Regions from separate parts of the Homo sapiens genome. Here region 2 is linked to region 1. The links come from fine-mapping of genetic effects on gene expression. Tissue or cell type: whole blood. Region 1 holds a variant in brackets; the other region holds the start of a gene. All regions are shown on one strand. Distances are between the middles of the regions. Region 1 overlaps B3GLCT (beta 3-glucosyltransferase). Region 2 holds the start of B3GLCT (beta 3-glucosyltransferase).

Region 1 (11,637 bases):
AACTTAAAAAAATGACAATTCCATGTGAATAAATGTAATCTATTACTAACAATAAGCAATTAACTATGAATCAATATTCTGACCTCCAAAAAATTCCGAAGTATGCGGTTTTAGGAAAGAACACATTCTACAACATCACAGAGAGAGATGTAAGAAAATATTATGGCTCCAGTTTCCTTAGTATGGTAATCACATACCCCAAATACTCAACTTGCTTAAAACATCTACAAATGTTGGGTAAAATGCCCTTAAATATTTACATGTATTGCTAAGTTGGCACAAAAATGTGGAATCTGCGAGAACAAAAATGGGAAAGTGAGATCCTGGGGAAAAAAAGGCACCAAGGGTAGTTTTCCCTAGTAGGTATCAGCTGACCTCTGGCAAGGCTGAGTTTCTGATAGGAGTGAAGAGACTGAAGTCTATGACCCACCCAAGGTGGGGTGTGACCAACAGCAATCCCCCTACATAAAGCTAGGACCATGGGTCTAAATGGAGGGAAAAGAATAATCTCTAAATCTCCTCTTAGATTTTGCAACCAAAAGCCAGGCCTCCCTAATTTGTGCCACCTGTGAGGTCCCAAAACATCTCAAACTGATAATTTAAATTATCTCGTCAGTATAACCCACTAGCAACAGGCAGAAGCTAATGTAAATCCTTACTAAGGAACCACTACTTTAATATACGGCTCAGAGGATTTTTCCAAAGGAACAAGGGTGCTTACAGAACAATCACTCAGAGAAAAAAAAATCACACACAAAAAAGAAATAAGATAACGAACAAGAGCCAGCAGACATAATTTATTTAATCAGACTCAAAAAACTTCAGCTATCAGAATTATCAAACAGATTATAAAATTACTATGCTTAATATATTTTTATAAAGAAAAGAAAAACTTTAAAACGTGAGAAAAAATTATTTTGAAAAGATTACACAAAACAAGTAAGCACATTTGAAAAATAACTGAGGCTGGGCGTGGTGGCTCACGCCTATAATCCCAGCACTTTGGGAGGCTGAGGCGGGCAGATCGCCAGGTCAGGAGTTCGAGACCAGCCTGTCCAATATGGTGAAACCCCATCTTTACTTAAAAATACAAAAATTAGCTGGTCGTGGTGGCACGCGCCTGTAGTCCCAGCTACTCAGGAGGCTGAGGCAGAAGAATTGCTTGAACCCGGGAGATGGAGGTTGCAGTGAGCCAAGATCATGCCACTGCATTCCAGCCTGGGTGACAGAGTGAGAGAGACTCTGTCTCAAAAGAAAAACAAAGAAAGAAAAAAGAAAAATAATTGAATAAAACTTGTGATGACAGAAAATGACTGGCAACCTAGAATCATCTACATGATGTAAGCATGCTTCAAAAACAAAGTTGAAATAAATATTGTTAAAGAAAAAATATTGAGAGAATTTACCACCTCACTAAAAGAAATTCTAAAGGATATACACTTCAGGAGGAATAAAAAGGATTCAATTGGAAGGCCTAAGAAGCAAGATGGAATGATAAGCAAAAACAATGGCAAATATATGATGAGTTAATAAAAATGTTAACTGCATAAAATAATGACAATATCTAAGTTTCCAGGGTGAAAAGAAAAAGGGACAAAAATATTGAACAACAAGTGCATGTAAGTTGGGAGTGGGATAATCAGAGTTAAATTATCCTAAGGCCCTCAAATTTTCTGGCTATTGATTAATAAACCATTGTTAGGTTAAGAAAGCATGTTAAATATTTAAAATAATCAGTAAAGTACAGACAGATTTAACTTCTAAAATAGCAGAAAAGAAAAAATATGGACTAATAAATAAATGAATAAGAAGACAAGGAACTTTAAAATAGAAAAATAGAGGGGCCGGGCACGGTGGCTCACTCCTGTAATCCCAGCACTTTGGGAGGCCAAGGTGGGCAGATCACAAGGTCAGGAATTCAAGACCAGCCTGGCCAAGATGGTGAAACCCCATCTCTACTAAAAATACAAAAAAAATTAGCCGGGCATGGTGGCGGGCACCTGTAATCCCAGCTAATCAGGGGGCTAAGGCAGCGAACTGCTTGAACCCAGGATGTGGAGGTTGCAGTAAGCCAAGATGGCGCCACTGCACTCCAGCCTGGGTGACACAGCAAGACTCTGTCTCAAAAAAAAAAAAAAAGGAAAAATAGAAAATAAGGAGAGGGGCACAAAATAAAGTGATAGAAGTCAAATATATCAGTAATTACAATCAACATAAAGGTAAATTTGCTATCTGGTTTAAAGATAAAGATTTTCAAACTGGAGGGTGGGGGGAAAAGGCATGTCCTCTTTAAAAGAGACACATCTAAAAAAGATAAGGACACAAAAGGATTGAAAGAAAAAGACAAAAAACGATTATGAGGCAAACAACCAAAAAATGCTAACATTGAAATATTCATGTCAACAAAATAAACATTAAGACAAACAGCATTACTAAAGATAAAGACAAATTCACTAAGAGGATGTAACAATTCTAAGTTTGTATGCATCTAATTAACATAGCCTTAGAGTATAAAAAGCAAGAGTTGGCAGTTCCATAGGAAAAATCCACCATTATTATGGACGATTTCTACATTCCTCCCTTAGTAAATGATAAGCAGACAAAACAAAAGTAAAATGAAGGATTGAAGCAATGAAGTAAAGAAGAAAATATCTGAAAAGCATCATTAATACTTTCTTCAATCTAATAGATATGAAAACTGAACATGAGCTAGGCCATAAAGTAAGCCTAAAAGTATCTCAAATGACTGTTGTATAGACTACAATAATACTGTTAGAAATCAATAACAGAAACACCACCACACACACAAATATACTGGGTCATGATGAAAATTTATTTTTTTAAAGTGGGTCATAGTCAAAAAAAAGTTTAAAAGCTTCTGCCTTGGAGTAACTCTTGCAGATGATCACCATGATACACATTAAAAATATTCATAGAAGCAATGGTTGTAATAGCAAAAAACCAGTAGCCAATCAGAAGCCCATTAACAAGAGAACGGATAAATAAATTATTATGGTCATATGGGAGACTACTATAGAAAGTAAAAATAAGTTAATTAGAGCTGCATGAATCAACATGGATGAGTCTCAAATTAGAACAGTTATTTGTGATAGAGGTGGGAGACAGCCAAATGCCTAGGCAGATAGGGAAGGGCCCCCAGAGAATCTCTGATCAACCCCACAAGTGTTTATTTACACCAAATGTTTTGTCCGAATATGGGAACCTGCACAGGGGGTTTGCCTAGGCATGCCTGCAGTGGACTGGAGGCCCACATGCATGGAGGCCCACATGCACTGGAAGAATGGGGTGGAGCCACCAGGAATTCACGCCTTATGCAGGGGAGGAGAGTCCTCTTCAACTCGTGTGTAGGGGCCCTGGTATTCATTTTATGAGGTGGAAACCTGCTGACAGGACCCCCTCTCTTTGCTGAGAGCTTTCCTTTCACTTAAATACATTCCATCCTCCTCACCCTTCAATGTGTCTGTGTGCCTAATTCTTCCTGGTTGTGAGACAAGAATCCAGATTAGCTGAACTAAGGAGCAAAAAATCCTGCAGCATTTGTATACAATTTTGTTTATATAAAGCCCAAAAGGATGCAAAATTACATGTTATTCAGAAATACATTCATACGTAATAAAATATGAAGAAAAGTAAGGGAGAGGGAGAGAATTCAAGAGAGTTTAGTGTGGGGAGACGGAAGGAGGCCTCTCCTCAAGAAGCACATAGGTAGCCTCAAGGTCACTCATAGTTGTCTCCTTCTTAAACCAGGCAAGCTAGTTAAGTATTTTGTTCATTAATCTTTATACCTTTCATATATGTTAGAAATATTATTTTGTATATATTCAATGTTTAGTAGATTTCCAAACCTAAGTATCTAGAGCTGACTTTTCATTAATCCTATCTAGGCAGAACTTGGTTTTCAACAAGCCATTTTTTTCATCTTTGTGGAAGAGAAGAATTATGTTTTTCTAAGTTTATTTCTACTCAAATATTCTGTATTACCATTTAAAGACAGCTGAGAAGTCAGAAAGTCTTGTGTGTGCCTTCTTGTCCCTGGAAGGCCATCAGCACTGCTGGACTGAATTACATGTCAAGATTTACCTTAATGTCCTAACATACAGATTCCTGCAGAGAATGAGAGGCAAGACTGTTTTGTGCAGTCAGGCATGCCCACAAGTGAAATGCAAAAAGGGCCTTCTTAATGATGATTCGAGAATAATTAATGATGGGACAACTGCCACCTGCCTCTAGAATAACTGGTCACAGATGTCCAGTAAATGTGAAGGAACCAGGAGTGTTAGGGCTCCAGGCTGCCTGCTTGGGACCAATAGGCTCAATTCTGCTCCAGACAGCCAAGCACAGACACACAACAAAGGCATACGTCTTAGTCTGTTCAGGCTCCAACAGTAAAATACCATAGACTGAGTGGAGTCTAAATAACAAATTTATTTCTCACAGTTCTAGGGGCTGGGAAGTCTAAGATCAAGGGACTGGCAGATTAAGTGGTGAGGGCCTGCTTCCTGGTTCATGGATGGCACCTTCTAGCTGTATCCTCACATGGCAGAAAGGGCAAGGAAGCCCCCTGCGGCCTCTTTTATAAAAGTGCTAATCCCATTGATGAGGGCTCCACTCTCATGCCCCTATCACCTCCCACAGGTCTACCTCCAAAGACCATTTCACTGGGGCTCAGGTTTCAAGGTATGAATTAGGGGGGCGGGGACATGATCATTCAATCTACACTGGCATACGTACAACCGAAGCATCAAGTAAGAGCAGAGGTACTTTTAATGACATTTTTGCATTTTTTTAGAAATCTACCTCTGGACCCATTCATCTAGCTTAAAAGTAAAGAATCATGAATCACAAGATGCAACCTTTTTCACTGTTCTGTCTTCATCTACATAACTGAAATGAGCTTAAAATAAAAGCACCTAATTCGCTGGAGTGCTATGAAATTATCTCTGTGGGGAGTAGATGTGGGTGGGGAAAATGCAAGATTAGGGAATGCAAAATACCTTTTACATCAAAGGACATGAATTCTTGATTAGTAAGATTTTTAATCAAACAAAACATGACATA[C/T]CTCATGTTTTAAATCTATTGTAAAGTCGGATTTCAAGGATTCACTCTTTAGTCTCTTGGTAAGCCTAGAAAATAGAGACAATTTGATTTTTTTTAACCAAAAGAAGTGTCAAGCAAGACTAACACATTCTTGAGACTTTCTAGTGTTTGAAAACAGATAAACATACAGATTTAAAGATAAAAATAACAGTTTAAATTCCTTGAGGGAAAGGACTGTGAAAACCCAACGGCTGGCTGACCAATAAATGAATGCAAGCCTGGTTGCAAAAGTAGCATTCATTATTCCAACATCTGCCAAACAACGTACAATACAATACAATGCCTTGGGGAAAAAAGTCATAAGCTTTGTTGACTCCTTATCATCTTTACACTAAATAATGACAGAGAAAGAAAAAAGAAAGAGGGAAATAAATTATGCTTGAGAAAGACAATGGCCACTTTTTGTTTCTCACTTTAATGAATCTTGCTGGGTTTTATGGGGGAAAAGCATGTGGTTTTGTTTTATTTCAAGTCACTGTCTTGTTTGAACATTTTCAATGGCTCCTTTCCCATACAGAATAAAGCCCCAAACTCCTGAGCCAGTCTTGAGGGCCCTACCATTCCCCTGACCATCTCTAGCATCACAGCACCCACTTGCTACACCCAGAGCACACACCTCCCCATTGTTCTCTCCCAATGGACATCTGCCTAGAGTGCCTGTACCCAACCTTTACTGAGCAAACTTGTAAACACCAAACTCATGGGTATCTTCTCTGTAAAACTTTTCCAGGTTTGCCCATCAGAGTAAATGGAAACTTCCTTGACCACCAGAGTACAAAGCACGGACCTATCAGCTTTACCACATTCATTAAAATCTGGTGCATACATAACTCTCTCTGTGCTATACTTTCTCCTCTGTCTTGCCAGCACTGCCCACCGCACCTGACCACAGTGAGCACTCAGTGAACTCCCTGAATGAATTAGACAACATATTATTTGATTCAAAGCTAACGAGGGAGGAATACTTACCCAAATCACCAAAATACCATATGGTTTTTTATTTATTTATAGAGCTCAAGACTAGACTATTAAATTACAAACCTCCTAATACATAGTTTCACTACAAAGAAATAATAGTGATTTTAAAAAGAGTAGGCTAGGCACAGTAGTTCATGTCTATAATCCCAGCACTTTGGGAGGCAAAGGCAGGAGGACTGCTTGAGGCTAGGAGTTAGAGCCCATCCTGGGCAACATAGTTTAACATAAAAGTTAAAACAAATTAAAAAAAAATTTTTAAGTTAGTCAAGCATGGTGCACTTGTATCCTAGCTACTCAGAAGGCTGAGGTGGGAGGATCGCTTGAGCCTAGTAGTTGAAGGCTGCAGTCAACTATGATCACACTCCAGCCTGAGCAACAGAGACCCTGTCTCGAAAAGAAAAAAAAAAAAAGAAAGAAACAAAAATTTTAAAAGAAAAAGGAAAAATACTAGTAAGTTTCCATTTTTTTCTACTGTTTTTAATTACATCTGTCTGGTTGGGCCACGAAAGATTTCTATAAAAATTCACTTCTGATTAGAAGAAGACAGAAAGCAGACACAGGATAAATGTGCTTCATTACAAAGCATTTGTCTCACAGCTGATACTAACACAGCTTGGTAGCAGGTAGCACCAAAAGAAGCCCCATATAATATCTGTCACATTCCCACTCAATACTTGCCCACAGATCTGTGAGTATAAGTGGGGTGGACTGAGAGACTATATCCTCAGATACACTCCAAATATATACTTAAGAGAAAAAATGTCTGCCCTGGCAAGTGAGATCTTGTTCAATTTGAATTCTGCTCAGTTGGAGCATGTTTTCATAAATAAACTGCATCAAGGTAACTTTGGGATTTGGACTCATGCCACATGCCTTCAAAATCTAATCAGACCACAAAGAGTAAGTATTCATTTCATTCAGGCTCCAAAGACAGAAAAGTCATACCCGGGCTTATTGCCACAGGCAAGGAACACCAAGTTGTGATTAGAATACAAGAGGCATGTGACCTCCACTGTTAGATGGCAATGTTTCATAGGCCCCTTCATAACAGTCAGTAAACACCTTAGTACTGTTACCTTAAACATGCTCTCCATCTTTTTGGCTTTTCAAGTTTCTTTCTCATTCAATCCTTGAAAATTCTTTTTCTTTGAGGGAAACCTCAGAAGGGGAAAAAGTGAAAACCACTGATAGAATTTCTGAGAGTGGCTCATGCCTGTAATCCCAGCACTTTGGGAGGCTGAGGCGTGGGGATCATCTGAGGTCAGGAGTTCAAGACCAGCCTGGCCAACAAGGTGAAACCCCGTCTCTACTAAAAATACAAAAATTAGTCAAGCATGGTGGTGCATGCCTGTAATCCCAGCTACTCAGGAGGCTGAGGCAGGAGAATTGCTTGAACTCGGGAAGTAGAGGTTGCAGTGAGCCAAGATCATGCCACTGCACTCCATCCTGGGCAACAGAACAAGACTCCATCTCAAAAAATAAAAATAAAAAAGAATTTCTGAGACAGAGAAGGACTGATGAGAGGACAAATGAATATATACATGGCTATCTTTCAGTGGCAATCTCTTGCAGCCCACAGAGTGTACCACAACCTCAATATCACAGACTTCTAGTGGAAGAGTTAGCCTCACGTGCCATCTCAGGCCTATGTCAGTCATCCAGTCACCTTGCAAACAAGTTCAAGTTCTAAGAGTGTGCAGGGTGACCAACTAACTTAAAAGGCAATACCTAATAGTGGTAACTGGATTTCAGTTTTCTATACACCAAGCAAGATAACAGGTTTTTCCAATGCTAGTTTCAGTAACCAACAATACCAAAAAACCAATGAAAGCCAGAAATTCCAGTTACTTAGATGAAATGTTTCCTCATTAAATATTCAGTTCCTGGAAAACACGAAGTTTGGTACTTAGCTTTCCTAATTTTTAGAATTATTGGGCCGGGTGTGGTGGCTCATGCCTGTAATCCCAGTACTTTGGGAGGCTGAGGTGGGCGGATCACGAGGTTGGGAGGCCAAGGCGGGCAAAACATGAGGTCAGGAGATCGAGGCCATCCTGGCTAACACGGTGAAACCCCGTCTCTACTAAAAACACAAAAATATTAGGCGGGTGTGGTGGCGGGCACCTGCAGTCCCAGCTACTCGGGAGGCTGAGGCAGGAGAATGGCGTGAACCCGGGGGTGGAACTTGCAGTGAGCGAGACTGCGCCACTGTACTCCAGCCTGGGCGACAGAGCGAGACTCCGTTTCAAAAAAAAAAAAGAAGTTAAGTCATGCCCCCAATAGCACAGTTCTAATGACACAACCACCTAGGCTACAGATGTGCAAATGACTGAGGGTCCTTTCAACTCAATACCTAGCTGACTTTTTCAATTCTACTTCCTAGCTGACTTTTTCAGTCCCACTTCCTAGCTAACTTTTTCAGTCCCACTTCCAGGCTAACTTTTTCAGTCCCACTTGTGAATCAGTCAACAGAGCCACCTGCTGAAGGAAATCTCGATAAGGTTTGCTGGTGGAAAAACAATGGAGAAAACCAGAAACAGTGTCCTGGAATGACATATATTTGAAGAAATCATCTTATTGGTAGTTAATGAAAATTTCTCCAAAAATGAAAGTATTGTTTTAATTGATCAAATGGATGGACTGCCAGGAAATATTAGGCAGTGTGAACTCAAAACTGATGTGGAATTGTTAGGCCAAATAAAATTTTGGTTGGAAACAGTCTAAGAAAGTGTGTCTCATGAGCTATCTTTAGGTAACCAGTTGTCCTGGGGACTAGGACAGAAGAAACACCTAAGTAACTGTAAGTTGTTACGCTACCTACAATGTGGGCCGTAAAGTCAAGGAAAGGACACAAAGGGAATCAACATTCCTGGACTGGCCTTCTTGGTTGTCTATATAATACAGAGTTTCCCCTTCATTCTTTCTAAACAAATTCTGGTTTTGATTAATATTGAGCCCAACAATTATACAGGCTCCAGAGTCAGAGATTGATTACTCTGGGCCAGCCAGAATAATCAATGAAATTCCCTGGCAACTGTTAATACTCTGGGGATTAGAACTGAAAATTCTAATAATTCTAATAATCAATGAAATTCCTGCGCAACTGTTAATAGTCTGGAGATTAGAACACACATGCAGTTGGCCCAACCAGACTGAGGACAAGCACTTACCATTCATGGTTGGGAACAGGCTATCTACTATTGGATGCAAACAGGAAATATGTAGCCCTTATTGTCTTGAAACCACAAGAGGAACCAGATTTAGGATAAATGGATTCTGTGTACTATAGGCTAGAGGGACAGAGAAAGTGTGGGTCCTCAATGATATTGATAAACTGCTAGATCAACCAACCACAGACCTCACCCCAATTACAGCAAAAGTATTTCCTTAATCCAGTTTGAGTTGCTTCCTATTACTTGCATCCAAAAGCATGCTAATTGATATAGCTAATAATAATAGGAAGAAATAAAGTCAGCACATTAGCTTTGAATTGGGAAAACAACAACTAGGAAGATCCAATGTTGCAGCTGATGGGGCTAATGAATACTTTATCCTTCCTTTAGTCCTGAGTATAATACCAGTTTCTTGAAGAATAAATAAGAATCCCCACTAGAAAGCCATTTTAAAATATATCTTGACCACAAGATAGTTGCTATGCTAGATGGGTTATATCATTTGCTTGATTACTTGTTGGCATCGGGGGAAAGGAAATATGATCTAAGGTAAGTAGAATTTTAAATATGGCATTATGGTAGAGTCTGCATATTTATTTTGCTTTTTTTTCCTGGCAGAGGAAAGGGAGAGGAGGTAGGGAGAAGACCATGGATATCAATGAACTATACACATTCTACGGTTTGTTGGTCACTGTTGAGCGTTGTGACGAGCAGATGACACACCATGCAGAAGGCTATCTGGTGCCTCACTCCTCTATCATACTGGAGTCACGGGGAAGTGCTGGGAATTTCCTGAGCTTTGTGGAAAAGATTAACCTCTTGGCTTTAATTCCCTTAGTCATAGTTCCCTATTACTATGGTCTGAATGTTTGTGTCCCCTCTCAAATTCATAGGCTGAAGTCCTACCCCTCAAGGCAATGTTATTAGGAGGCAGGGTCTTTGGGAGGTGATGAGGCCATGGGGAGGGAACTCTCATGAATGGGACTGCACCCCTATAAAAAAGACCCCTCGTCCCTTCTCCCAGATGAGGGGACACAGCAAGAAGGAAAGGAACCAGAAAACTGGCACTCACCAGACACTGAATCTGCCAGCGCCTTATCTTGGACTTCCAGCCTCCAGAACTATAAGAAATAAACTGCTGTCGTTTATAAGCTACCTGGTTTATGGCATTTTTTTATAGCAGCCCAAACAGACTAAGATGCCTACACACCCTGCTGCAGTGACAAGGCCCTCAGTTCTCACTCCTAAATATGGTTAAACTTGACTAGAAAGGGAGATGTGAAACCGCTATGGAAGCTGGGCACTGGCTACCTTCCCTTGTCAACAGATGTGTTCAATGATCTCACAAACACAATGGGGAAGGGAATCATGGACCTGTGGTCTCCTGTGGGACTACCTTGCAAAATGCCAGATAATCCAGAACATACAGTCGCCCCTTAATAAAGCTAACATCTCAGCTAGTGCACAACCTGCAACCCTGGTTCATGAACCCCTGGAAGCTAGTCATGTGGTGAGCATGAGACAGTAATGAGGTGAGCACTAGCCAGAGCCAACAAAGCCTGCCAGTGCTCTGGGTGCTGCTACACTTGATGAGCAGTGAAGCAGAGGACAGAGGTTTCCTAGAACAGGTTATACTTAATGCCAGCATGTCAGCCATAAGAGTTAGGTTGAACTGCCCTATATAGGGATGCCAGGAGTCAAAAATGTGTTCAAACAGGATCACTTCCATCAACCTGCACCTGGTTCAGACAGTAAGTCAAAGGAAGCAAGAATAAATAGTTACTTCTAACACCTAATTCAACAAAAACGGAATTGAATTCAGCATCAAGAGGTCTCCAAGAAAGTCTTGCTAAAGGAAGACAGGAAATTGTGATGGGAAGAAGGAAGGTAAAACTCTAGACTATAAGGATTTGCCTTCAGGATGAGAGGCCTCCTGGATCAGAAGGCAGTGATGAAGAAAAGAGCTACACTGGCTTCAAGGAAATGATTACACCCCCGCTTGCCATATAGCTCTACCTGGGCCCACTGGTTTCCTCTTTAGCCCTGGAGGAAGAAGAACCTGCTGCACTTAACAGCACTTTACAGGGCAGGCAAGAGCTGTGTTTGTTCCTCTCTCAAGGGACTTCATAGCACATGGGAAATGGGAGAGAAACAGGCTTATACAGAGGTTATAAGTCCCAAGTCAGAAAAATCACAGCCACGTGGGACTTCTCCCATGGAGAAGTCAGACCAAATCTTTCTATACTATAAAACTAAGTAGAGATCAAATGAGGAAGGCTAGAGGAAGCCTCCTGTGGCCGAGGATGAGAAGAATACTTGAGGAAGGGAAAAGGAACAGTGGCTCAGCCTACAAAGTGCAGGTCACAGCTTC
Region 2 (11,637 bases), 69 kb after region 1:
ACTATACACTTAAAATTCATTATACTTAATAAACTGTATGTTATGTACATTGAACCACATAAAACTGTTTTTAAAAACCTGGTCCTCCTCCTTCAGTGCCCAAGTTAGTAAACAGCACTACTACCCATGGTGGATGTGACAGAAATGTATGACTCATCCTTTCCCCCACCCTTTCTCCCAGCACACTGAACCTAATCAGTCCCAGAGTCTGAGAGATTATTAATCATCTCTCACAACCTGTGTCCAGCAGCCTCCTCACAGTTCCCTATATCCACAATGGCCCCCTCCAACTCCTGCTCCATCAGACAGCCAGAGTGAGTTTCAGGAAACGGCAGCCATATCACATACTGCCCCACTACAGCCCTTCAAACACTTCCCTCTGCTCTAAGGATGACCCCAAAATATGTCCCCTGATCTGCAAGGCCCTACCCAACCTGGCCCCTAATGATCTTGCCAGCCCTTCAGTCCTCCGTCCTTTCTCCACTTGGCTCCTTCACCACCAAGCTCTGCCACCCACTTACCTGATTTCTGCTTCCCTTTCGGGTCTGAGCTCTAACGTCACATCCTCTAGGAAGCCTTCCTTGACCCTTACCCCACAGTTTCTCAAGCTTGCCACTGTTGGCATTTTGGATCCGATAATTAATTGTTCGATGGTGGGGTGGAACTGTCCTGTGCCTTTGTAGGATGTTCAGCAGCACCCCTGACTCTAGATGTCAGTAGCACCCTCTGCCAAACCAGCCCCTGGGATAACCAAAAAGTATCCAGACAGCAACAAACGTTCCCTGGGGTGCAAGATGGCTCCCTGTTGAGATCCATCTCCCCAGTCTAGGCAAAAGCCATCTATCTCCCTGCAGCATGTTCTCACAGCATCCTGAACATCTCTTCCACAGCATTTGGCACAGACACGATTCATTCTGTAGTCATTACTGCTTAACATCACCTTGCCTTTCGGGCTGCAAGCTCCCCAAGGGTAGAGACAGACTAGATCTGTCTTGTTCCTGCAATATCACGATGCCTGACACACAGTAGGTACCCACATTACTCTGAATAAATGAGAGGCTTTGGGCAGTTTTTCTTTTTAACACTATTTTTAAATTGACATTCTTCTAGTAGTTCAAGTCAACGCCTACGTTAAATCAGGTTTCTTTGGGAGTTGCTTAGTGACTAGAACTTTGAAATCATGGTAGTAAGGAAGAACTTCCTCAATAGGTCTGATGAACCCTTGAAACTCACAACTTTTCCTTTATCATGGAAAAGATGAGATTAACCTATGGGGACTCCCATATATTGTTCTTAAGAAGTAATCTGTGCAAAGCCAAAGATGGATCACACATAATGCTACAAGAGGAAAAACAGAACATTTGCAAATTTTCTCTAAGTAGTACCTTTATGCCTAAAAATTATGCTTGCTTGCTTGCTTCATAATGAGTCTAGTAAAACACACCAAAAAAACCTGGCTCCAAAAGAGCCAATTATAAGGAAGTGCTCAAATACCGAGCCCACAATGTTTGTCCCGCAGGAAGTTACCAAAGGGGTCAAAGCACCTCCTTCGAATTCACACTGCTATTTGAAACAGATGCTCTCCCTCCCTCCCACTGGCTTAGCTGTTGGCTACTGGCAAACTCCCCTGGGTCAAGTCCATGACCTGGGGAGCCATGCCAACTCGGAGGTCCTGGACTACCTGGATGACAAAGAATCCATCCAGAAGATTAAAATCTGTGCCAGTAATATCTGCATACTGCTTAAGAAATAAAGAGAAGGTTTTAAGAATCAAAAAACACAAAACAACCTGGAATTAGGTCTGACTCTTGGTGTCCTAAAATTTCTGACTCATTGCAATGAAAGGAATCTGGGCAAGACCTGGCTCAGAATGAAAAACCATCCCCAATTTTGGCAGGTGCTAAGAAATACAAAGTTGGCTCACACAGGGAAGTGACAGACAGGCATGTGAAAAATAAAAGCTAATACCTATTATTTTATCAATATCATTGGTTCGAATAAGCTTCTTCTATCAATTAGGATTAGGTTTGGCAATAGGATTAGGTTTGGCTGCATATAATCTCATGCAATACAAGTCTGCAAACAGGAAATGCAGAGCTGACATGATGCTCCACATCCATCTGGCATCCAGGCTTCTTCTATCTTTCTCTTCTACCATCCTTACTACTGGCTTCCATCTTCAAGGTCACCTCATGGTCACAAGATGGCCACCATGGCTCCATCCCTCAGATCCACTTAATAGGCAATGGGAAGGAGGATAACACAGAGCAAAAAGGCCTGCATCCCAGCTGAGTCAGCCACCTTGAATGAGCTTTACCAGGAGCCCCACCAAACAATCTCTAAAGATATCTCTGTAGAGCACTAGCTGCCCCTATATGCAAAGGCCACTGAGAAATGTCTCACAGTGCTGCTGCCACCGCTGCCACCACCACCCCACCATCCTTCCCCCCAACCCAGATTATATTAGTTTTGTTAGGAAAACAAGGGCTAAAGGGTTACTTCGCAGGTGGCTGTCAATCTCTGCTACAACGGGATCAGTATGTTAAAACTGTAAGAGGTGGCAAAGTGCTAGTATTCTATCCAGTCCATTCGCCCTGTTCATATGAGAAAACTGAAGCTCAAAGCCACTAAAAGCCACACAGCTAACAAATGGTAACCTGGAGGCCTGACTCAATCTTCTCATTCTGAAACTGGTGCCAGACTTTAGAACCAAAGTTGCAGTGAACCGTGTCTGTATATGCATGTGGGTTTAAAAGAAATTTTCTATATTGACTTTTCTCTAAAAATATAAACAAATATGCTCTAGTTTGTGGGGAAACTAAACTATATAGTCAGGCCAATCTTATATGGGAATATTTAAGGTATTTATAAACTATCAAGATTGTTCACATGTGACAGAACGCCTGTCACATTCTGTTTCAGCAAGATTCCAAGAACATCGTAAGTGGGGACATCTTTATACGTGTCGGTGCCCTTCCCCTAAATCGAAGCAGAGCTCCATAAAAGGTATTCATGATTCACTTCAGACCTCGAAGAATACAGCCTCCCGTCTGTGCCAACCCATGAAAGCCAGTTCCCAAAGGCCAAATGTCTCACAGGGACCTTTTAATGCATTTTATGTCTTATTTATTGTGCTTATCTGACAACTTCACAAGGCTAATAGACATCTCTAAAAATGTGTTGACATCTTAGTGCATTCTGAATGTCCTTCAGTGTATTATCAAATTTGGACAGTGCAAATATTCCCCTGGGGGTAATAAAAAATAGACACAGCAATACAAATGTGCATTTCAGCCCATATGTTGTATATATTATATACAAATATTATACCCCCAGTACAGCATTATAAAGTGCAGTGCTATAAATAGAATACCAATTTCAGCTACCACCCACCCATTTGGTTAGTTGCAAAACATCCAGGCAACAAGCCAACTGATGCAGCCAGGAGTCACCCAGTCGCTTTCCCAAACCTCCAACCTCCCTTTCTCCCAGGGCTGCCACCCAGCAATGCCCTTCTTCCACTGAAGCCGATTCCAGCCAAATTCAGTCGCTCCCCAAGACCAACTACAGCCTTCTCTGCCGGAGGTGCCCTAATATTTTTAATTACACTGCTGCCTAATTAATCATGCATGTAAACAATTACCAACTAATCTTGCTCTTTTCCCACACTTACTGAGCGCCTATAGAAATGCCAGAAGTACACAAATGCAGCAAATTAATCCTTATTCAGAGAGCTTAAATACAAATAAAAACAGGCTGTCAAGGTTCCGGTGGGCTAACAAGAGCAGTGCGCAATAACGCTACGTCTTTTCCTAAACTGCACCATTCTGCCATTACTAAAAAATCTGAAATCATTGCCTTTTCACACCAGCAAGTCTGGGTTAGAGGACAAAAACTCTGTAGCAGTCTGAAAAAAAAATAATTTTTCGCTCAAGCTTTCAAAGTTGAACAAATCTGATCATGAAAGTCAATTACAAGGCTGCTTTTTTTTTTTTTTTAACTTTTATCACATCGTTTTAAGATAAAGGGGGGAAATGCCCTTGCGAGGAGAAAAGAAATAAAAAAGAATGGGCATTACAGCAGCAGGAGACCGGGCAAGCACTGCTCTGCTCGCAGACGTGTCCCCTGATGTCCCCAGCGGAGACCCGAGACAGGAGCAAGCCTCCCCGCCGCGCCAGCTCCCGCGGAGGCCCAGCGGGCGCCCCTGTCCTCCTCCGGGTCGGAATCCGGGAAGGGCTGGCGCCGAGCTGGCCGCTTATCCTCAGGGGCCAGGGCACGTCCCGAAGGCCCTGCGGAGGGGCGCGCGGACACCGGGACCGCAGTCCTCGCCCCCGGGGGTCGAACAGGAGCCGCGGGGCCTCGAGGGCCGCCTCGCCGGCTCCCGTCCAGCCTCCCGCCCGGCGCGGGGCGCGCAGGACGGCGGAGCGCGGGCGGAAGGCAGGGGGGCGGGACCGCCGCCGCCGCCACTCGCGCTGTTGCAAAGTTTCTTCGGTGGCACAGTTCCTGCGCGCTTCCTGTGGGGGCGGCTGCTGCGCCCTCGCCGCCCCGTCGCCCGCCGGTTCGGGGCGGCAGAGGCTGGGAGACGCGAGTCTGGGGCCGGGGCGGCAGCGGGGACCCAAGACCGAAAGGGGCCGAGCGGGCACGCCTCGGGTCCCGGGCCCGGGTCCCACCTGGGCGCCGCGAGAGGGCGCTGCTGACGGCGCGGCGCGGCGGGGACCGGACGGCGGGACGCGCGCGCCGGCGGGGCAGGGCTGGGCCGCCCTGCGCCTCCCTCCCCGCGCCGACCGGGGCACGGGCGACTGTGCCCGCGAACCCCACGCCTCGCCCTTGCGCGCCTGGCCGCCCGCTACTTACCCAGGGAGCAGGTGAGGAGCGCGAGCAGCGCCGGCGGCGCGAGCAGCCACCAGCAGGCGGGCGGCCGCATCCTGGCGGCGGAGGCTGAGCGCCCTACCTGGGCGCGGGGAAGGGAGACGCGCGGGGAGCGGAGCTGCGCCGCTGCCGCCGCCGCCCTGCCGCCGCGGCTGACCCTTCTCTGCCGGCTCCCCTCCTCCCTCCGTCTCCGCCGCGCCATCGCCGGCCGCGCCCTCTGGCGGCCGGGAGCGGGAGCACCCCTGTGCGCGCTTCCAGCGTCTGCCGGGCTGGCGGCTGCGGCTGGTGTCCGGCCCGACGGGCTGCTGCGGTAGAGGTGGCCGCGGCTCTGCCCTCACGGCGCCCTCCTTCGAGGCGTCTGACCTCTGCCCCCTCCAGCCACCAGCCTCCACCCCTCCTCTTCCTTTCTCCTCTGCGTCCCTCCTGACCTAGGCCGCGTCCCCTGCCTTCATGCCCTCCCACCTTACCGCGTCACCCCCATCAGTAGTTCTACCTGTGAAGTGGAAGCGAGCAGTAATCACTTTTCCTCCCTGCTAATGTATTATCTGCTGTGGAAAAAAAAATGTAATCAATAGTTCAACTCTTAATATTGTTGGCACCAATGCTCTACTTTGATGAAGGTGTTTTTAATCAGCTCAACTAATTTACTTAATATCCCCTTTAAATGGAATTTGGCCAATAGCCTAGGTCTGGGATTTGGCTTTTAAACAAGTTTGTGTAAATGTAATTTTCTATAAATGTAATTTTAAGTGTTCACCATAATGGAAGAGAGTGGGTGTAATTTTATTCAAAATATAAAAATTAATTAAACTGGAATACAGAGAAGTGGAGCAATGTGGGAGTGCCTCCTGTTCCCGCAGGACTGCGAAGGGCTTTCCTCCCCAGCCCGGTAGAGTGGTGGCCCTGATAGGGGACTGGTCCTGTTGTGTTGTGTGGTGCACTGAAGGGGAAAGCATTACAAGTAAGAACTAGAGGCTCCCTTCAGTGGTTCTGAACTCCTTCGTGCCTCCCTCAAGCCTTGGCTCACTTCTGTTTCCAAGGAAGTGCACAGGACCAAGTGCTTTTCCCAGCCCTAGTTTAGCCCATGACCTCTTGAAGGCAGTTTCTATGTTTTCCTTCATATTTACTCATTTGTTGGATACCTACTATGTGACTGCAACTCTGCTAAGCACCCTAGGAATGCCAGTATCTTTCACATGGACATACAACATTCACCTACTTGCTAAACATTTAAGGAGGAGGAGGCCCTGGGAGTACAAGTAGGATGGCCCTGGGAATACAAGTAGGATGTCCTGGAGACAGAGAAGCAGGTGCTGAATAAACATTTGTAGGCTTGAGCCCTCTTAACTTGAATGCGTTTAGGGGACTTAGGCTCTAATGCATTAGGACAGTATTGTCTGCAATTGTGCAATACCTGCTGGGATTGTTTTGAAAAGGAGGCCTGGAGACAAAGAATTTTCTCTCTGTGTGGTTTATATTGACTTCTTAAAACTGGGAACTAAATATTTCACGTGTGATCCATTTAGTGTGAGTGCAAATAGTTCCCTTTTGTTCCATTCGCCCAAGGTTTATGGTCTCTTGTCAATACCATTTTGATGGGAGGAAAAAGAAATGTAGGGATCCTTCCATTTCATTTCTTAGTGAAGCATTTCAAATCTATGGTTGACTGAATTCATTGCTTTTATCCTTGGGAAATTCTCAAGCTTACCTGCCTAGTAGTTCTAGATTGTTTCCAATTTCCAAAGCTGTTTTCGCTTTTTTCCAAGAAAATATTCCTTGCATATGTGGGGTAGTAAACATTTAACCAAACTGTTTAATTAGACACAGAAGACTAATAAGCAGGGTCAAATGCCTACTCCACGTGGGTAAGCAACTCCTGGTGCTTAATCAATGTTTTCATGGAAATTCATCATGTTAGAGTATTACTATGTTCCAGAACAAGGTGTGGAAAATTAAGCCCTAAGGACAACAGAGAACACACCGTTTAAGTAATAAACTTGCCCTGGTGTCCTTCCTTTCCACAGTAGACATAGATAAATGGCACATTACAAAGCTCCATAACTCACATTTTAAAAAGAATTGCCTTTCACTTACTCTAGTCATATGATAAATGGACTTGCTGGGAGTTCTCTCTCCCAATCACATGTCAGGAGAGTTTCCTAGAGCAACGTACTGATGAGGATACTAACAGATACATGATAGGCACTGCTTGCCTATAACATTGACTGTAAAGGAACAACTCTAAGTAGAAAAAAAATAAATCCTATAAACTTTAAGATTGTGATATGAAAACAAGCAAGCCATCTTCTTGGGATTTACTCAATCCCAGCTGTCACCTCCATGCTGGCCCCTGAAACTTTCTTTGTTGAGGGACAGGGGAAGAAGCAAGGAGCCATCTTTTGTTGGGGAAGGCACTGTCGCAACCTGGTTAAAACAGACTGGTAATTTTACAGATAATTTTCTAAATACTAAAGGAGAACATAAAGACATACTAAAACCACTGAGAGCCAAATAATCTAATGAACAAGTTCCAAACAGATGGTTTCTGATCTTACAACAGTTATCCTTGAGGCCCAAAAGGCTGAACTCCATTCATTCAAATGATAGGGAGCACCTCTAGCTGATGTGCCCTTTGCTAAGCTCTGGGGCAGATATTAAAGAGCATAAAACATGGTCCTGGGCCCAAGAACTCACGGTCCAGTTTGGGAGACAAAAATGTTCATAACTAACTTTGCTACCTTCTTATAAATGCTATGGCATGCGTAGATCAGCACACTTTGGAACACACAGGGAAAAAAAAATCTCTCAGGGCCTTTGGAATCTGTAAGAAAAGAAGCGACTGTTGCACAGGATCTTAAAGGAGAAATAGCAGGTTCCTGAGCTGAGAAAGGAGGACAGGCGCCCCAGGCTGAGGCACAGCACGAATGTGCAAATCAACAGTAGTGTGGCGGGTGGGGAGAGGGGCTGCAAGGAGGAACAGCTTCTCACTGTGCCCCCTCCAGCCTGCTGCCTCTCTCCTGTGACTTGGAAGGGGCCTCCCAGGCACCCTGTTTCTATACTAGCAAAGCCCAAAGGGCATATTCCAACTCTTCCCACTCTCGGTGCCCTTTCACTCAGTGTCAGGCCTAAAGTGGATTAGCAGTCAACACAATTCAGGAGGACTATTCTCTTCCTGCATAAAACAGCAGGTTTATGAATTATGAGTGGTCTTGAGGATTATTTTCCAAACCTAAAATCAGGTCTTAAGGTTTAATAGTAAAATAGAATGTCTAAAACAGGGTCTCCGGGACTTAAGGTCATTATAATATCAGACCTATGCTACAGTACTTTAATCATCTGCTCACCATCCTCACACCCCACAATCAGTGCACACTAGGGGGTTACAGGAGAAAGACTCATCACTTGTACCTTACGCTTTAGCGTTTTGGGAAGGAAGATAATCTATGATCCCCGTGGAGAAGAGGGAGACAGGAAGAGAAGAGAGGGAGCAAAACTTTCATCACTCAGAGAGGACCCAGAGCCACAGCCCCACTGCATGTACTCAGGAAGAATCCTTTGATGACATACGGTGGTTTCTTTAATGCCCTCAGGGAGCTTGTCTCACATTGCTTCCAAAGCTATTCAAAAATTATAGGCAAGGCCAGGTGCAGTGGCTCACACCTGTAATCCCAGCATTTTGGGAGGCTGAGGCGGGTGGATCATTTGAGGTCAGGCATTCAAGATCAGCCTGGCCAATGTAGTGAAAGCCCATCTGTACTAAAAATATAAAAATTAGCTGGGCATGGTGGCGCACGCCTGTAATCCCAGCTAATCAGGAGGGGGAGGCAGGAGAATCGTTTGAACTGGGGAGGTAGAGGTTTCAGTGAGCCGAGATCACGCCACTGCACTCCAGCCTGGGCGACAGAGTGAGATTCTGTCTGGAAAAAAAAAAATATATATATATATATATATATTTAGGCAAAACCCATTCTGTCAAACCAAACTTTCAACCAAGATTTTTATTCAAAGAAGCTTAACAAAGGGATTCTCACAGCCTAACAACCCTGAACCAAAATCCAGGAAATATAACAGGTTACCATCTCAGCAGACCCCCCAGGAAAGCCCAGAAATCTGAAGCCATTGACATTTGAAGACACAGAGTGATATAAAGCCTGTCTACAAGAAAGCTATCCTAGAAACTTCTAATCAGAAATAGATGATCTACTTGGCTGTTTCGCTCTCCTTTGTAGAATCACATATCCTTCTGTTCCCAGTAAAGATCAGGAATCACTCATAGCAGGCATGACAGGAAGTGTCTGCATTTGACTTTCACTAAGAACAGAAGGCGTGGGGCATGACTGTTCAGCAGCCCACACAAAATGTGTTGGTGTTTTTGGTGCTGTTGCTAATAAGTAGTTGTTCATTTTACAACAGCTGCTTTCAGATGTAGGATCTTGCTTAATAAGCTCAACAAAAATTTTATGTGTTTGTGACGAATGTATCACGGACTAACTGCATGTATGAGGCCCTCATATGGCATGCTGAGTTTGGAGGAAAATGCATTTTCCTGGGGGAGATCACAGTCTAGTTAGGAGGACCAGGACATACAGAAATAGCCATAAACCCTCCTGGAACATGGAAATCCCCTAAGAAGCGTACGAACAAGGGCAAGGAGAAGGAAAGCACATTCATCAGTGGGGCTGCATGGGGCCTCACCGAGATGGCGCGGTTGCCAAGAGAGAAGGGGAGAAGGCATTCCAAGCAGAGGAGACAAGCAAGAAATGCCATGGAAGACCGAGAGTTCAGAGACTGAGGAGCTGTTTAGTTTGGCCAGCACGAGGGAACATGGAGGGGAGGCTGGTTAGGACCGTACCGAGCAGGGGCTTGGGCACCGTGCTAGGAGAATGGCCTTCCCTTGAGTGGGGCAATGAGCAGTGGATAGATGGAAGGATGTTTCAGCAGGTGATGACCAAAACCTCCACTACAAGACTGTAGCTCGTAAGGCCTACCTGGTGTCCTAACTCGGCAACCCCTATCAGAAAAATAATGAATATTTCAATTGTGATGAATTCACATGATGAACACTCAGTTCACGTGAGTTGGGTACTGATTTAATGATTGATCAGTGCTGTGAGAAGTTTAATTCAGTGTTAATGTTGTGGATGGATTAGAGAGGGGAAAGAAAGAAAAAAGACTGGCTAGAAAAAATTATGAGGAAAGGGGAAATGAAGGAAAACTAACATGTATGTACTGAACACATGCAGTAGCTAGGCACTCTGCCAGTTACTTTCTTTTTTTTTTTTTTTTTTTTGAGACGGAGTCTCGCTCTGTCGCCCAGGCTGGAGTGCAGTGGCGGGATCTCGGCTCACTGCAAGCTCCGCCTCCCGGGTTCACGCCATTCTCCTGCCTCAGCCTCCCAAGTAGCTGGGACTACAGGCGCCCGCCACTACGCCCGGCTAATTTTTTGTATTTTTAGTAGAGACGGGGTTTCACCGTTTTAGCCGGGATGGTCTCGATCTCCTGACCTCGTGATCCGCCCGCCTCGGCCTCCCAAGTTACTTTCAAATATATTATTTCAGTTAACCCCACACCAAAAAAAGAAAAACCTATGACAGGACTACTGTTCCCACTTTACAAGATTAGTAAACTGAGTCTCAGGCAGGTCAAATACCAACAGCCAGAACTGCCTTTAATGGAAACCCTGTTATTTAACGGAGGTAGTAGCAACAGGAATAGAAGGGAAAGGATTGCTGTGAGGGCACAACAGAGGGTCAGATCAATTATACTTGCGAGTGAGTCGATGCTGGAGCAAAGAGAGAGGCCACAGAGGAGACAAATGAGGCAATTAACTAAAACGGAGATCTGCCAGAGGAATGAGTTTGTGGAGAAAAAGGAAAGATGATCATTACTGCTAGTGTAAGTGACAGCAATGCCCTCACATTATCAATAGATGCATAGTAATAGCTAATCTTTACTGAAATGCTTGTTATATACCATGCACTATACTAAGTGCTATACGTACTTTATTTCATGTTGAATAATATTTAGTTTTCCAAACAGCTTTATGACTATCATTCTTACTTTAGGGAGATTAAGTAGCTTGCCTAAGGACAGCGATTCTCTTAGGGGTCCCTGACACTCAGGGTATCCAGGTTTACAAGGTCAAAACTACTTTTATAGCAATACTAACACATTACTTGCTTTTATGCGTGTGTATTTCCACCAATAGTGCAAAAGCAATCATGGATAAAAGTGCTATCTACTGCTGTAGCACTAGTCAAGGTAGTGGCACCAAACTATGCTTACAGTGGGAAAACAAAATAAGCCAAGTTCACTTACAAGGTCCTTGATGAAGCAGTAAAAATTACTAAGTTTATTAAATTACACCCTTGAGTATTCATCTTTGTAATATTTTGTGTAACGAGTTGAGGGGTAAGCATAAAAGTACTTCTACGTATTAAAGCATGATGTCTCAAGAAAAAACACTTGTGAGATTGCTTGAGTTGCAAGCTGAACTAGCTGCATTTTTCATGTAACGCCATGTTTAATTGACTAAAAAATTGACAAACTTATTCAGGTTATTCAGGTTTAGGGGCTGGGTATTTTCTCAAAAAAAGAGCTTGTCACTTTAAGGAAAACAACTGATGTAATTTGTTTACATTAATACAAATCAACCTTCCAAGTGAAATTAGAATTTTGGAAAACTTGTATGTGCTGCCATGAGTTTAACAGCTTCCCCATCCTTAAAGACTTTTTAATGAGATCAATGGTGGTGTTCACAAATTTGAT

Evidence for each region.
Region 2: B3GLCT starts here. The variant in region 1 is fine-mapped to the expression of B3GLCT in whole blood (TOPMed, PIP above 0.99).

What each region holds. Positions count from the first base shown.
Region 1 is chr13:31,262,721-31,274,357 of GRCh38, reverse strand. B3GLCT (beta 3-glucosyltransferase) reads right to left here. Exons shown (of 15, transcript NM_194318.4): 8 at 5,081-5,144. Among named protein-coding and RNA genes, the nearest start is that of B3GLCT, 69 kb to the right of the region's middle. The variant C/T (reference allele first, on the strand shown) is at 5,080.
Region 2 is chr13:31,193,372-31,205,008 of GRCh38, reverse strand. It overlaps B3GLCT (beta 3-glucosyltransferase), which reads right to left and starts at 5,034. Exons shown (of 15, transcript NM_194318.4): 1 at 4,855-5,034. The coding sequence starts at 4,924. RefSeq lists silencers at 4,074-4,323, 4,384-5,283, 5,334-5,393.